Regions from separate parts of the Homo sapiens genome. Here region 1 is linked to region 2. The links come from fine-mapping of genetic effects on plasma protein levels. A gene starts in region 2. The other region holds a variant in brackets. All regions are shown on one strand. Distances are between the middles of the regions.

The links. A credible set is the group of variants that fine-mapping cannot tell apart. PIP is the chance, under the fine-mapping model, that this variant and not a neighbour inherited with it causes the effect. The UK Biobank Pharma Proteomics Project read protein levels with antibody pairs (Olink). The fine-mapping took linkage between variants from a reference panel, not from the people measured, so its PIPs are less certain.
Region 1: its variant is the best candidate, but not a certain one, in a credible set for the plasma level of the LTBR protein (UK Biobank, PIP 0.84).

What each region holds. Positions count from the first base shown.
Region 1 is chr12:6,404,315-6,412,835 of GRCh38, forward strand. It overlaps the pseudogene RPL31P10. Among named protein-coding and RNA genes, the nearest start is that of LTBR, 24 kb to the left of the region's middle. The variant C/T (reference allele first, on the strand shown) is at 4,710.
Region 2 is chr12:6,376,377-6,384,376 of GRCh38, forward strand. It overlaps LTBR (lymphotoxin beta receptor), which reads left to right and starts at 7,786. Exons shown (of 10, transcript NM_002342.3): 1 at 7,786-8,000. The coding sequence starts at 7,983. It also overlaps a transcript of SCNN1A not described here. RefSeq lists enhancers at 15-619, 6,839-7,704.

The DNA of each region.
Region 1 (8,521 bases), 28 kb after region 2:
GTTCCTTTTCATTTCTTTCCCTTTTCATATAAATTTTAGAATCAGTTTGTCAATTTCTATCAAAAAAAAGCTTCCTATGATTTTGATTGATAATGCATTGAATCTATAGATCAAACTGGGGAGAATTAACATATTTACAATATTGAATTTTCTAATCTATGAATACAGTATATCTTTCTATTTATTTATACCTTTTTTTTTTTTTTTTTGAGGCGAGGTATCACTCTGTCACCCAGACTAGAGTGCAGGCTAGAGTGCAGTGGTGCAATCATAGCTCACTGCAACCTTGAACTCCTGTGCTCAAGTGATCTTCCCACCTCAGTCTCCTAAGTAGCCGAGAGTACAGGCACATGCCACCATGCCTGAGTAATTTTTTATTTTGTGTAGAGACTGCGTCTTTCTGTGTCGTCCAAGCTGGTCTCGAACTTCTGGCCTCAAGTGATCCCCCTGCCTCAACCTCCCAAAGCACTGGGATTACAGGTGCACCCAGCCCACACCCAGCCCACACCCAGCCCCCACCCAGCCTACACCTAATCATTTATTTATATCTTTGTTGATTTCCTTTTTCTTTTCTTTTTTTTAATTTAGCCAGCTTTTTTTAAATTTTAACTTTTTTTTGGAGGGGAAAGGGAGTGGTCATGGACATACTGAAGTAGACACAAAAATATAGAGAATACTGCACTTCCCAGGGCTCGTCACACGTGCTTCAAAAATTACCAACAACTTGCCATTTTGTTTCATTATCTGCACCCACAATGGTGGATGAGGGAGTCTAAAAAATATCCCAAACATGAAATCTCAAAAATGTGATTTTAATCATGAATATTTTCACAAACATCCTAACAGATATGAATATAGAGAAAATACACTAAGATTTCACACCTAAGAAAATTTTAAAAATGACTTATAACATTATCCAATACCTAGCCCTTAAAGAAAGGAAATCCTGAATTGTCTGAAATATTTTTTATACTGATTTTGTCTGAATGAGGTCCCACCAGCTCCAAATATGGCATCTGATGGCTGTTCCTCTTAAATCTATTATAATCCATAAATTTACCCAAGTCTCCAAGTAGCCTGTCTGCTCTTTGAAAAAGGAATTGAGAGACCATAATCTGAGTGAAAATTCTCACTGATCATGGATTGTCATTGCTTTTAAACCATTCTTTGAAAAGTATTGCAGAAAAAAATGTTTTGTTTTCTTTTTTTTTGAGACAGAGTCTCACTCTGTCTCCCAGGCTGGAGTGCAATGGCGCAATCTCGGCTCACTGCATCCTCCACCTCCCAGATTCAAGCAATTCTCCTGCCCCAGCCTCCCGAGTAGCTGGGACTACAGGCGCGCTCCACCACGCCCTGCTAATTTTTGTATTTTTAGTAAAGACCGGGTTTCACCATGTTGGCCAGGCTGGTCTCAAACTCCTGACCTCCTGTGATCCGCCTGCCTCAGCCTGCCAAAGTGCTGGGATTACAGGCGTGAGCCACCGCGCCCGGCCAAAGGTGTGTTTTTTATGAGAGTATTTTTAAAAACATTCAAATTGTCGGTCACAGCTCCTTGCCTATGCGCCTAAAAAGAGATAGCCCAAGACAGACGGGGGAAAGAAAAGGGGAGACAGAAACAAAAAGAAAACTGGCAAACAGAGGAGAAGTCCAAAAGCCCAACTCCCATAAGTCAAGACTTCCCACAGTTCTCTAAGTCAGCAAATGAATGTAATTTAAACTGCTTTAAACGTCATACAAAAATAAATCCTTTTTAGTAAATCGATAAACAGAGGCATCTCCGTGACGACTGGTGGCAGCATGTACTCCTCCTTTTCTAAAACAAGGAGTTCTAAAACAACTCAAGGCAGCAGAGAGCCCTGAGTTGCAAACATGAAAAGCATAACTTTCTCGAGTTGGCTGTTAAGTGTAATAGGAGAGGCACCACTCCACTCCTACCTCTCCTTTCTTTAACCAATGCATTTTGGCTACAGAAGAAATTATGCCTATTCTTAGTCACTATTAAGCACATATACAATGTCGAAAATTGAACAGTACTCCAAGAGGGTGCAAAATGACTACATGCCACTTTAACTGAGGCTTCCAAAAATTGAGATTTCTACTTATAAGGAATGTGGTACACATTAGAACTACTGAGTCCCATGGTCATCCATGCATTACCTTACCCTTTTTGTATAACTTATAGAAATGGGTCCAAAAAGACGTTGTGAGATATGAGGTATGAAGTGTTCAGTAAGTTCATTGATGGTCCTGCTAGCAATAGCATGTAAGTGAAGCATATCCAAATCTAGAGTAAGTGTTTATCTCAGTGAAGACAAATCCCTGCCCCATCCATGACAAAATACTTGCAAGAATACAAGAATACTTCCCCTGACATATGGGACACTTAGCAGCATCAGCATCCAGAGGTCAGCCTTGGTGAGCTAAGTCTATACTATAGAGCTCAAGTATAACCTCTACCACTGCCTGCCACCCTAGTCACATTTTTTTTTTTTTTTTTTGAGATAGAGTCTCACTCCGTCACCCAGGCTGGAGTGCAATGGCGTGATCTCAGCTCACTACAACCTCCACCTCCCAGGTTCAAGTGATTCTCCTGCCTCAGCCTCCCGAGTAGCTGGGATTGCAGTCACCCGCCACCAGGCCCGGCTAATATTTGTATTCTTAGTAGAGATGGGGTTTCACCATGTTGGCCAGGCTGGTCTCAAACTCCTGACCTCAGATGATCCACCCACCTCGGCCTCCCAAAGTGCTGGCATTATAGGCGTGAGCCACCACGCTGGCCACATTGTTTACAAATAAATCACTTGGGCAGTAAGTGGGGTGATACGAAGAGACTACATGACAGCCATATGGTTGATGTGTACCTGATTGCTGATAGCCTCCTCTGAAGAGTGGGAATTTCGATTAGCATTCACGTGGGACATTATTCTCATATTCTGGGACCGTTCTGGGAAATTCATCCACATCACTGTTTCCTGAAACTTCTTGTCAACACAACCTTCACTTTTGCCCACTTAAAATCTCTGTCTATCCACACCATTAGCCATGCACATTCAGTTTAGATCAGTGTCTTAGGTCACGCTCCTTCCAGAAAAAGTAAACAATGACATTCAATACTCCAAATACTGCTGAGTGGCAGCAATTCTTTCCCTATTGCCAATTATGGACATATTTGACTGGGGTAATATTATTACGGCTTCTAATACTACTGTTACAATTGGCTTCAGTAGTATTAGCCAACATATGTTGAATGCTTACTATGTACAGGACAGTGTTCTAAGCATACTAAAACTATTCGCTCATGAGAGGCACGATTACCTCTCCATTTTTAAAATGAGGGGAAAAGCCAGAGGAAAATAAGAAGAAAAAAGAAAAAAGCCAATTTGTCTGGAACTGGTTAGTAATGGGCTGAACTTGTAGCATTCAGTTTTTCTTTTCTTTCTTTCTCTTTTATTTATTTATTTATTTATTTATTTATTTATTTATTTCTTGAGACGGAATCTCCATCGCCCAGGCTGGAGTGCAGTGGTGCAGTCTTGGCTCACCGCCTCCTCCGCCTCCTGGGGTCAAGCAATTCTCTTGCTTCAGCCTCCCAAGTAGCTGGGATTACAGGCGTGTGCCAACACACTGGGCTAATTTTTGTATTTTTAGTAGAGACGGGGTTTCACCATGTTGGCCAGACTGGTCTTGAACTCCTGACCGCAAGTGATCCGCCCGCCTCGGCCTCCCAAAGTGCTGGGATTACAGGCAGGAGCCACCATGCCCGGCCCCATGTTGATTTCTTTCGTCAGTATTTTGTAGTTTTTAGCACACATATCTCCCACGTATTTTGTTATATTTATACCTAAAAACTTCATGGGGGCTGCTATTGTAAATGGTATTCTATAAACTACAGTACGTTGTTTCTTTGTATAGATCCAAGATTTTGATTATATTTCTTCTTCTTCTTTCTTTTTTGAGACGAAGTTTCACTCTGTTCAACCCAGGCTGACACAATCTCGGCTCCCTGCGACCTCCGCCTCCCGGGTTCAAGCAATTCTCCTGCCTCAGCCACTTGAGTAGCTGGGACTACAGGCGCCCACCACCACGCCCAGATAATTTTTGTGTTTTTAGTAGAGACAGGGTTTCACCATGTTGGCCAGGCTGGTCTCAAACTCCTGACCTCAAGTGATCACCCGCCTTGGCCCCCCAAAGTGCTGGGATTACAGGCGTGAGCCACCACACCCAGCCTCTTCTTCTTAGAGAACTTGCTTTGACATTTATTATAAAGTAGGTCTGCTGGCAATCAACTTCCTCAGTTTCTGTTTGTCTGATAAACTTTTAATTTTGGCCTGGTGTAGTTGCTAATGCTTGTAATCCCAGCATTTTGGGAGGCTGAGGTGGGAGGATCACTGGAGTCCAGGAGTTTCAGACCATCCTGGGAAACGTAGTGAGACCCCGTCTCTAAAAAAATAAAAATAAAAATAGAAAACTCTTAATTTGGGCCAGGCACAGTGGCTCACGCCTGTAATCCTAGCACTTTGGGAGGCCAAGGTTGGTGGATCACCTGAAGTCAGGAGTTTGAGACTAGCCTGGCCAACATGGCGAAAACCCGTCTCTACTAAAAATACAAAAATTAGCTGGGTATGATGGCAGGCACCTAGCTGAGGCAGGAGAATCACTTGAACCCGGGAGGCGGAGGTTGCAGTGAGCCAAGATCATGCCACTGCACT[C/T]CAGCCTGAGTGATGGAGCGAGACTCCATCTCAAAAAAAAAAAAAAAAAAGATATTACTCCATTTCATTTTGCTTTTATTGTTTCTGACTAGCAGTCTGCTGTAATTCTTATCCTCGCTCCTCGGTAAGATATTATGTTTTTTCCCCCTTGGCTGACTTCCAGATTTTCTTTCTCTTTGGTTTTCAGCAGTTTTAATATGATATGCCTAGATGCATGGGTTTGGTGAGGGGCTGTGTTGTTTTGGTATTTATCCTGCTTGGTGTTCTCTGAGCTTCCTTGATCTGTGCTTTTCTGTCTGTTACTAATTTTGGATAATTCTAAGCCATTATCTCTTCAAATGTTTCTCCTGTCTTATTCTTTTTGTTCGTTTGTTTGTTTGTTTAACTAAGTCTGATTAGACAAATCCTGTCCAAGTCTTTCTTCTCCTTCTGGAATTCCAATTATGGGCATGTTAACTCATTTGGTATTCTTGGATGGTGTCTTCTTTCTTTCTTTTTTGTTGTTGTTCTGTTTTGTTTTTTACCCACTCTTTTTTTGCACTTCAGTTTGGGTAATTCCTCTTTATTTTTTTGCAATTTTATAACTTTATTTGATGTATTTGACTATCAGCGATTAGTTCTCATCCACATTGACTGTCTGTAGATTTTTGAAAGTGGTAGCAAATACATAGGTAACCAAAGTATAGAGCTTATTTGTGAATCTTCATCCTCATTACGTTTTCTGGACAGCCGCACATGGATTCGGTGTCGGACATTCCTTATTCCTTTGGCCCAGACAGCTTTGTTGAGCCTGGTATCAATGCGCACATCTGGAGTTTCCATCTCCTTCATGGCAAATTTCCGAATCTCTTTGAGTGCCCGAGGGGCACGCTTCTTGAAGCCTACTCCACAAATGCGCTTGTGAATGTTGATGGTGTATTCTCGGGTCACCACTTCGTTGATGGCAGAACGGCCCTTTTTCTTCTCGCCACCCTTCTTTGTGGGAGCCATTCTGCCATGTCCAAGTTGGAAAGGGAGTTTGGGAAATTTCTATTGACCTCTACACCCAAGGTCACTGATTCTTTTCTCAGCTATACTGAGTCTACTGATGAACCAGTCAAAGGTGTTCTTCATTTCTGTCACCACGATTTTATTTCAAGCATTTCCATTTTATTCTTATGGTTTCCTCTGCTGAATTTATCCATCTTCTTTTGGCATGTTGTCTACCTTTTCCATTAAATCCTTTAACATAATCATGTTACTTTAAATTCCATGTCTGATGTCATATCTGAGTCTGGTTCTGATTTTTTTTTTTTGTCTTTTTAGATTGTGTCTTTTTCTTTTTTTTGAAACGGAGTATTGCTCTGTCACCCAGGTTGGAGTGCAGTGGCATGATCTCTGTTCATTGCAACCTCTGCTTCCTGGGTTCAAGCAATTCTCCTGCCTCAGCCTCCCCAGTAGCTGGGTTGACAGGCATGCGCTACCATGCCTAGCTAATTTTTGTATTTGTAGAGAGGGGTTTCACCATACTGGCCAGGCTGATCTTGAACTCCTGACCTCGTCATCCGCCTGCCTTGGCCTCCCTAAGTACTGAGACTACAGGTGTGAGCCACCATGCCCAGTCCAGATTGTGTTTTTTCTTTCCTTTTTGTATACCTTGTGGTTTTCATTGAAAGCTGGATATGCTGTATAACACAACAGATACTGACATAAATATTTTGTATTCTTGAAGATAAGCATTCATTTCTTTCTGCTACTTCTCTAGTATAGAGATTTCCATTAATGTAGTCAGGAGGGCTGGGTTTGAAGTTTGCTTTTGCACCAACATATATTATTATCCTCAGTGCATCAGGGGCTTAAAATTCCTCTAGTGGTGCCTTGTTTTTGTCTCTTGGATTTGTATCTTCCTTTTGCACTGTTCCCTAAATAAAGTCTGTCTCTTGCAAGTTCTCCCAGATACATTCTTGTATTATTTTTCACTGGAGGCCTGTCATGTGGTGGTAGGCTATGAAGGAGGTTATGTGTTCCCTTGTGTTATGATTGAGGCTCAGCCTTAGGTAGGCACTATGAACCTGGATCTTGGGAGTGTGGCCTTCATAATTGCCCTTCCTCCAGGTATAATGGTTGGCCTGGCAATTATTCCGGTCCTCACTAAAAGGAAGAACTTCTTCTTTTTTCCCCTGTTCCCTTCCCCTAATTTCAGTGGGTTTCCACCAATGCCCTCTGCCCATAAGTTTTGTGTTTTCTGTTTTTTTGAGACAGAGTCTCACTCTGTCCCCCAGGCTGAAGTGCAGTGGTGCGATGTTGGCTCACTACAACCTCTGCGTGATGGGTTGAAGCGATTCTCCTGCCTCAGCCTCCTAAGTAGCTGGGATTACAGGTGCCCACCACCTGGCTAATTTTTGTATTTTTAGTAGAGATGGGGTTTCGCCACGTTGGCCAGGCTGGTCTCAAACTCCTGACTTCAAGTGACCCACCCACCTCAGCCTCCCAAAGTGCTGGGATTATAGGCATGAGCCACAGCATCCGGCCTGCCTGTAAGTTTTTATGACCTTCCCCTTGCAGATGAAGTCTTGTCCTAAAGGAATGGAGTCTTGGCCATAGCTGCTGTTCCGTTCCCCACCCCCAGCAAGCACCATGGAGCAGAGGGTGTCAGAATTCTCCCATTTCACCTATCTTCCTGTGGGTGATTGATGGGGGTCCTGAAAGAAAAGCCTGAAAGAAAGCGCAAGACTCCCTTTGTCTGCAGCTTCCAGGGACTTCATACTCTCTTAATCACCAACAGTAGGCCACTATTAATTGTTAAAAATGTCCAGCTTAATTTTCTTACTTAAGTAAGGAATGCTCAGGTACTGTTTCCCCCTGTAGGTACCTGTCTCTCTCTCGGTTTCAGGTTGTCTGCCCTGTGACCTCAATTCTCTTAGGAGATCCAGAAAAGTCATTCATGTGCAGCTTTTCCAGCTCTTTTCTTGTTGCATAGCTGGGAGCAACACTCTTGCCATCGTTTCAGTTTGGACCAGAAGTCCACTAAAGGACTTTAAGCAGGGAAAGGAAATGTTCAGATATGTTTTTTTTTTTTTTAAGATGGAGTCTCGCTCTGTTGCCCATGCTGGAGTGCAATGCCTCGATCTCGGCTCACGGCAATCTCCGCCTCCCAGGTTCAAGTGATTCACCTGCCTCAGCCTCCCAAGTAGCTGGGATTACAGGCGTGCACCACCACGCCTGGCTAATTTTGTATTTTTAGTAGAGACTGGGTTTCACTATATGTTGGCCAGGCTAGTCTTGAACTTCTTCAATATTGTGTTGGCTATTCTGGATCTTTTGCTTCTCCATATAAACTCTATAATCAGTTTGGCAATATCCATAAAATAGCTTGCTAAGAGTTTTACTGGGATTGCATTGAATCTATAGATCAAGTTGGAAAGAACTGACATCTTGACAATATTGAGTCTTCTTCTCCAGGAACATGGAATATCCTTCCATTTATTTTCTTTGATTTCTTTCATCAGAATTTTGTAGTTTTCCTCATATAGATGATTTTTTTTTTTTTTTTGAGATGGAGTCTCACTCTGTCTCCCAGGCTGGAGTGTGGTGGCACGATCTCTGCTCACTACAAGCTCAGCCTCCTGGGTTCAAGCAATTCTCCTGTCTCAGCCTCCCGAGTAGCTGGGATTACAGGCGCCTGCCACCACGCCCGGCTATTTTTTGTATTTTTAGTATAGGTGGAGTTTCACCATATTGGTCAGGCTGGTCTAGAACTCCTAACCTCAGGTGATCCATCCACCTTGGCCACCCAAAGTGCTGGGATTACAGGAGTCAACCACTGTACCCAT
Region 2 (8,000 bases):
TGCTGTGGTCACAGAGTTGCAGGAATGTGGGCAACCAGAGGCAGCGCGAGGGCCACGCAGGACACTGTGGACACAGACCCGGAGCCCAGGAAGAGGCAGGGAAAGCAGGCACTGAAGGTGCAGGGAGGATGTGGCCAGCGCTGGAAAGGAAGAGGGTGGGCATGGCACACGCCTAGACAGGCCCTGGGAGGAGGAGAAATTCGTTGATGGGCTATATTTTCTCCAAAATCTCTTTCCAAACTTAATGCAGCAAAAGGATAAGGAGTGGAGTGCCAAGTGGTGAGCAAGGAGAGAGAGGAGGGTCAGAGAATCAGACCCAAAAAGGGCTGGAGGAGACTCGGGAGAGCCACCCACACAACCCAGGCCCTGCACGCGGCAGGGAAGGCTGCCGCTTCCTCACGGGCCCCACAGGAGGCAGCCCAGAGTGCAGGAATGTGGTCACTGGCTTGTCCTGCCTCCCTCCACAAGCCAGCAGACAAAGGCCCAGCCTGAGCATTGATACACACCGGGGGAGGAGATAGGCCTGCAATACAATAAGATAAGGTTTCTATTTGTACACTTTAAAAGATTGTCTTTAAAACGGACTTCTAACAAAAGTGCAGATCTCAGATTTCTCAGAGATAAGACATAAGAGCCAAGGGCTAGGGGAGCCTAGGGGCTCACTGCAGGAGACTCAGGAAGCCTTCCCAGAGAAGGTGTCATCTCTGCTGAATCTTGACAAGCAAGGAGTTTAGCAGGCAAAGAAGAGAAAAGGCAGTACTCCAGGCTCAGGGTCCAACCTGGTCTGTGGCTTCCTCTCTTGCGGCAGTCTCTTGCGACTTCTTAAAGTGAAAGCCGGTGTCAACCAGGATTCCAAACCAGGTTCCCTTGCTTACCTTGATACTGCTCATGATACCTCCCCTTGGAAGGGACAGCTGGATTTTTCTTCATTGTCCTAATGAAGAAACTGACCCTTCCCAAGGATAAATCAGTTTTCTGAGGTTAGAAAACAAAATAGGAGCAGAGCTATAAACAGAATTCAGAATTCTCCTCCTCCTCTGGGGCTATCTACTTAGCGCTTTTGCCATTTACTTCCTGAGACAGACTCATGGGGGATCGGGGCTCAGGTGCACCTGGATGTGAAAGCCGGGAAGGCCTCCCTCACTCCCACACAGAGCCCGTGGATTCGTCTGCTCTCTGGGTGCTGGGTTATCTCCTTGGCTCTGTGAAAAGGTCTCTGCACTGTCCCCACTGCCCCACATATCCCAGAGACCCCTAGAAACTCCAGTCTCCCTTGAGCCAGGTCCTTACATTGGGCATGGTCCTCCCTGCAATAAGGTGCTCAGCACCCTGGCTGTTTGATCTCAAAGGTTCTGAAAAGCACCTCCCTGCCTTTTCTATTTGCCAGCTCATGCCTGAAATCCAACCACTAGCTTAAGGCAGCATGGCAAATAGTTTTCATATCAAGGGCTCTGTGAGAAGAATTGCAATGCCTGGTCTGGGCTGAGCCAAAGGGTGGTGACCCTGCCACGTCCTGCCGGGTATGGGAGTGGCAATGCGAGCCTAGTGCTGCAGCATTCTAGACCTGGAGCGGGCTAGAACAGGCTTGGTGTTGTGAGGAAAATAGAAATCTGAGACCTGGACTTTGGTCAGAAGTCCATTTTAAAGATGATCTTTTAAAGTGTACAAATAATACACAAATATGTTTTTGTCACAGTACAATTTTTCAGCAATACAGAAGTATATAGAGCTTCCCTTAGTCCCCTTCCTTTCCCTCCCCAAAGGGGAGCCACCATAATTTGTATATCTGTCTATATCTTTTTGTGTGCCTTTATAAACTTACATGTATTTTTAAAAAACAAAATATATAGTTCTTTTTTATGACAGAGACCATGCTATAGGTATGTTTCTACAACTTCCATTTTTGCTTTTATTTTCTTATTTATCTTAGAGACAGGATCATGCACTATCCTCTAGGCTGGAGTACAGCAGCATGATCATGGCTCACTGCAGCCTCCAACTCCTAGGCTCAAGCAGTCCTCCTGCCTCAGCCTCCCAAAGTGCTGGGATTACAAGTGTGAGCCACCATACTCAGCCCCTATTTTTGCTTTTAAACTATGTGACTTTGAGAAAGGCACTTGACCTCTATGGGCCCCGGTGATCTTACCTGAGAAAATGAAAGGGCAAGAAGGGGTGGGTAAGGCAACCCAGATGGACAAAGACTTTTTCCAGCTGACCTTGCATCTAGCCCCCTGCTTCATGCATGAGGGGACTGAGGCCCACAGAAGCAAAGTGACTTGGCCACAGTCACCCAGGAGTTAGGGGTGGGGTCAGACTGAAAACCAGGCCACTCCTTTCCAAGCCCAGTTCTCCTTCTCTGACTTTGAGAGAAGTACAGTTTTGTTCTATAAGAAGTCAAGAGCTTTGTAGACTCTGTCTTGGAAGGACCCCCTGCCTTCCCAGGACTACCCCCAGACTCCCCCAGAGCCCCAGCCCTTCCCGCCAACCCAGGGCTGCCTTCCCCTCCCAACACCAGCTATCCTCTAACCCTGTGGTGTGGCCATAAAATATGCACGGCTGCAGGGAGAGAAGTGAAACCAGAGGGGCTGCCATGGGATGAGGGTTATGAGTGCAAAGGGTCTTCCTGCCTCTTGTTCTCCGCGGACAGGAGATGACGGAAGTAATCACTCCACCCTCCTAGGGAGAGCCTATCTCTGCACTTACCACTGTTTACTATTATTTATTATTATTATTTACTATTATCCTGATGTATGTGTGTTTGTACGTATACATCCGTTTGGGGTCCCTGACTTCCCGCAACACAAGGACAGAGACCAGGCGTATTCATCTTGGTGACCTCAGTGTCTAGCGGTCACTGTTTGCTGACCCAGTCTGCAGAAGACAGCAGAACTGGCGTCTTTCCTAGTTTATCTTTGACAGAGCGGGATATGCTACGAAAAAGCATCTGCAAAACTTCAAACATCCTAACTTCCTCTGACAACCCATTTATTTGTGGTCTATTAATTTATCTAAATTTTCTTCACTTTTCCCTGTTCACTTCTATCCTTTCCAGGATAAGAATCAGTTACTTAGTTAAATGCAACTCTTTATTCTTACTACTTGGAGCTAATTAGCCACTTCACACTGGGGGCTGCCCACTGTGGAAGACAACAGTCCTTTCAGCTGCCCTTATGTGGTACAGATTTCTCTTTCATTTAAAATGATGGACCAGAAAAATGCCACTCTTCATCTAGTCCCCTGGCAGTTTACTTAGAAGTTCACTACTAGAAGTTGGCCGGGCATGGTGGCTCACGCCTGTAATCCCAGCACTTTGGGAGGCCGAGGCGGGTGGATCATGAGGTCAGGGGATCGAGGCCATCCTGGCTAACATGGTGAAACCCCGTCTCTACTAAAATTACAAAAAAAATTAGCTGGGCATAAGTGGTGCACGCCTGTAGTCCCAGCTACTCGGGAGGCTGAGGCAGGAGAATGGCATAAAACCGGGGAGGTGGAGCTTGGAGTGAGCCAAGATCGTGCCACTGCACTCCAGCCTGGGAGACAAAGCAAGACTCTGTCTCAAAAAAAAAAAAAACAAAAAAAAAAACAAAAAAAGAAGTTCACTACTAGAAGTTTATCACTTTGATTGAAGACAGGGTTTATCAACCTTGGCACTATTGACATTTTCGGCTGTATCATTCTTTGTGGTGGGACAGGATGATTCTGTCCTATCTACAATCCTGTGCAGGATGTTCAGCAGCATCCCTGGCTTCCATCTATTAGATGCTAGTAGCACCTCCTGAGTCATTGTGACCAAAACATCTCCAAATATTGCCAAATGACTTCTGGGGGGCAAAGTCACCCCCGTTGAAAAGACTGGGTTAAGGCATTGTCACCACTGAAAATGCAAATACTCTGGAAAAGGACAACCCTCATCTGTTATGCACTTCTGGGTGTTTGCCAGACCATTTCCAAGAGCACTAGTCAGCTAAGAGCAGAGTGGAGAAGAAGAGAGAAAGAAAAAGTATTTAGAAGAATCCATTCCTGGCCGGGTACAGTGGCTCGTGCCTGTAATCCCAGTACTTTGGGAGGCTAAGGTGGGCGAAATGACTTGAGACCAGGAATTCAAAACCAGCCTGTGGCCAACATGGCAAAACACCATCTCTACTAAAAATACAAAAATTAGCCGGGCCTGTTGGCGCATGCCTGTAGTCCCAGCTACTCAACTTGGGAGGCTGAGGCCAGGAAAATCACTTGAACCTGGGAGGCGGAGGTTGCAGTGAGCTGAGATTGCACCATTGCACTCCAGCCTGGGCGACAGACTGAGACTCTGTCTCAAAAAAAAAAAAAAAAGAAGAAGAAGAAGAAGAAGAATCCATTTCCATCAGCCCCCTTTCTGGATGCCTAATGGGCCTGTGGAAAGAAGGCTCTCTCAGCAGCTCCTTCGGAAGAAGGCCTGGGAGAAGAGTCCCACCCTCACACACCTTCTAGGCGTCCTGGGGTGCTCGGTCTGGGTCTGGTGTTGCCCAGTGGAAATCAGTCTCAGGAGGCTCTGGTGAAAAACACAAAAGGACAGGAGTAAAGACAATGCCCTGCCCGCGGTGAACCTGTGGATTTCTCACCCCTGGAGTCTCCCTTTATCCTCCTGGGGATGGCTGGGCATTATAGTAGCCATTTATTGGTAAGATTTGTCTTTCGTGATCCAGCTGGGAAACAAGAAACACTCTAAGTCTTTCAAACAGAAGAAGTTTAACACAGAGAACTAACTGGTACATGGGTGATGGAGGAGCTGAGAAGACAATGGGAGGCAGCTCAGAAAACAGCAGAGCGGGAAGCAGCTACCATCTCTAGGCCTGGAAAGATGGCAGGGTGATGTAGCATCAAAGACCAAGAAGCCTCCAGAGCCATTTGGCAGGAACTAAATAGTGTGGACTACTGGTAGGAGATGGGATTATGGAAGTGGGGAAGGAAGGAAGACAACCAACTGCAGGTGAAGCCAGAAAGCAGAGAGGAGAGAAATAGCCTGGCTGCTTCACTCCTCCCATCCCACCTCCATCCCACAGACCTGCAAGCAAACCAGTAGCTGACTGACACAATAAAGAGGCACACAGAGATAAAGTGATGGGGCCAGGATCAAAACCCAGATCTCAGGGCTCGTTCCTTAGGGTGTAGAGAGTCCATGAGGGCTGAAGCGCCAGCTTACGGCTGGCAGCAGAAAGAAACATACAGTCCAGCCAGCTGGGGTTAAAAGGGGTCTGGACATAGTGGTTACCTGTGAAGCAGGAAGCTTTGACTGGGAAGGGCATGTAGCAAACATTTGTAGTGCAAGGAACATTCTGGGGCCGGGTGCCGTGGCTCACGCCTGTAATCCCAGCACTTTGGGAGGCCAAGGCGGGTGGATCACAACATCAGGAGTTCAAGACCAGCCTGGTCAACATGGCGAAACCCCATCTCTACTAAAAATACAAAAATCAGCCAGGCATGGTGGCAGGCGCCCGTAATCCCAGCTACTCGGGAGGTTGAGGCAGAGAATTGTTTGAACCTGGGAGGCAGAGGTTGTAGTGAGCCGAGATTGCACCACTGCACTCCAGCCTGGGCGACAAAGCGAGACTCTGTATGGAAAGGAAAAGAGAAAAGAAGAGAAGAGAAGAGGTGTTCTGGACCAGTTGGGGGATATGCAAGAATACACAAAAGTGAAGACTCTCTGAGCTGTATCTGTAAGATCAGTGTACCTTACGGTTTCATTGTATTATATGTTACACCTCTATTAAAAGAAAGGGTCTCAGCAGCATAAGACAGGGTGGGGAAAAAAAGAAAAATAGAATAGAGAAAGAGTCCCTGTCTTTTAGGGTAAAATCCTGAAATATTTTCAAATGAAATGATATGATGTCTGGGATTTACTTCAAAATAATAATGAGGGATTTGAAGAGTGTGTGCGTTGGTGGGGGAGGGGGTATACAGAATAAATGAAACTGACAGTGAGTTGAAGCTGGGTAAGGAGTATATGGGAGACTCCCAATATTACTTTTTCTCTTTTGGTATATTATCTTGCATGTGGAATTTCCACAGTAAAAAGTAAAAAGAAGAGAGAGAAAAAAGGACCTAGGGTCGCTACACACACATTCCTTTACGCGTTTAAGAGCTCAGCAGGGACTCTCATCCCAGCCCCCAGCGCTAGGGCCCTGGAAGGCTCAGCAGCCCCGCGCAGTGCATGCTGTTCTGATACTTCTGCCCTTTCCAGCCATCTTTGGCCCATCTGTACGGTGAGCTGCCTGCACCAGGTGAGGGGAGAGAGCCTCACAGAGTGAAATGCCTACAGCCTAGGCAGGTCCTTTCCCCCTTTTGTGACCTCTCCTCCCCATGCACACTTCCCATCACCTGCACCTGTCCAGACATCAGACCTGAAGTTAGACAGACCAGTGTAAGGACGAGTGCTGAACAGAGTCCTTCAGGGAGGGGGATAGTGCCCAAGTGACCTATCTCAAGAGAGGTTAGCCCCTCATCCCAAGGGAGACATCCCTGAGCCACAAGGAGTTGGCAGGACTGCTGGAATGAGTTGGGACCTAGACATCAGGAGACCCAGATTGTAGCTGGCTCTGCGGTGGACTGGCTCTGTGATGTGGCCATCACTCATTTATTCCATAAATACCTATTGGGCACATGGTATGTGCCAGACTCTGCTAAGCATGGGGAACACAGACTTGAAGATTCAGCCTGGGCCATGGTGGCACTCACAGCCTGGTGGGAAGCAAACAAGACAGCCAGGTACAGAGGGCAGTCTTCACGGGGACTGTGCAACCTAGGGCAGAGGTTGCCTTCCAGAGCCTCAGTGAAGCCTCAAGGACAGGTGGGAGTTAGGAAGACGGAAACTTGGGGACCAGAGAACCACGTGTAAAAGGGGGCAGCTGCAAGTAACTCCACGGGTGGGTGGGGTGTTGGGTTGAGGGAGATGGGAGGATGAAACAGGGCAGGAACGAGACCAGGCCACCCTGGAATCCCGGTTCCCTTATGTATCACCCTTAGCCTCCCTCTCCATGCTTAAGGTGAGGGGGCTGGACTGCGTGGGCTCTCAGCTTTCTCCAGTTCTAAGGGGTTTGAAGGTTCATGGGCAAAGAAGCCAGAGCAGAGGGACTGAGTGCCCAGGTCCAGCCTGCTGGCCCCAGGACTCCCCTCCGCATATCCTCCCCCTCTCTTTGGGAGGGAGGTTCCCTGAGGACAGGGAGCAGGGCAAGCTGCACAGCTCTCAAGGGTCTCCTAGGTGACCTGTGCCCACTCCTGTGCGGATTGGGCTGGGTTGGTAGCGTGGGGGGCTGGCTGATTTGCTAGTCCCTTGTAATTTGTCTGAAAAACTCCCACAGTAGGGCAGGACAACGGGGGAGGAACCCGGGCATCTGCCAGCCGGTTCTCCTCGGTCTCAGAGCTGCTTCTGCGGCCTTGCAGTCCCCGCGCCCTGCCCTCTCCATGACTGCCCGTCCTGGGCCCCTCGCTTTCCAGATCCCGCACCCAGCTGTCCCTTGCGCTCTCTGGAACTCCCTCTGCTCTCCCTGCGAGGCTTGTCCAAGGGCTGACCCCGGGCCCGCCGCCCTTCCCTCGGCTGGGCCAGGGCTGTCCGCAGTCCGCTCTCCCGATCGGGCTTCCGAAGAAGGGAGGAGGCCGGTTCCGGCCCCGCGGCCCTCACGTGCTTTCCCGGCCGCCCCTCCCGCCCCGCATCGAGGCAGACAAGCCTGTTCCTCTTCCCTGGGCTGCGATTGCGACAGGCCGGCCTGGCTCCCAGCGCTCCCTGTCCCCGCCCCGCGGCCAGCTCGCTCCACTCCCACTTCCTGAGCTCCGCCATGGGAGCCCTGGAGGCCCGGCCTGGCCGCTCCCGGCCCTGGGGTGCACATCGGCCCTGAGTCCCGTCCCAGGCTCTGGGCTCGGGCAGCCGCCGCCACCGCTGCCCAGGACGTCGGGCCTCCTGCCTTCCTCCCAGGCCCCCACGTTGCTGGCCGCCTGGCCGAGTGGCCGCCATGCTCCTGCCTTGGGCC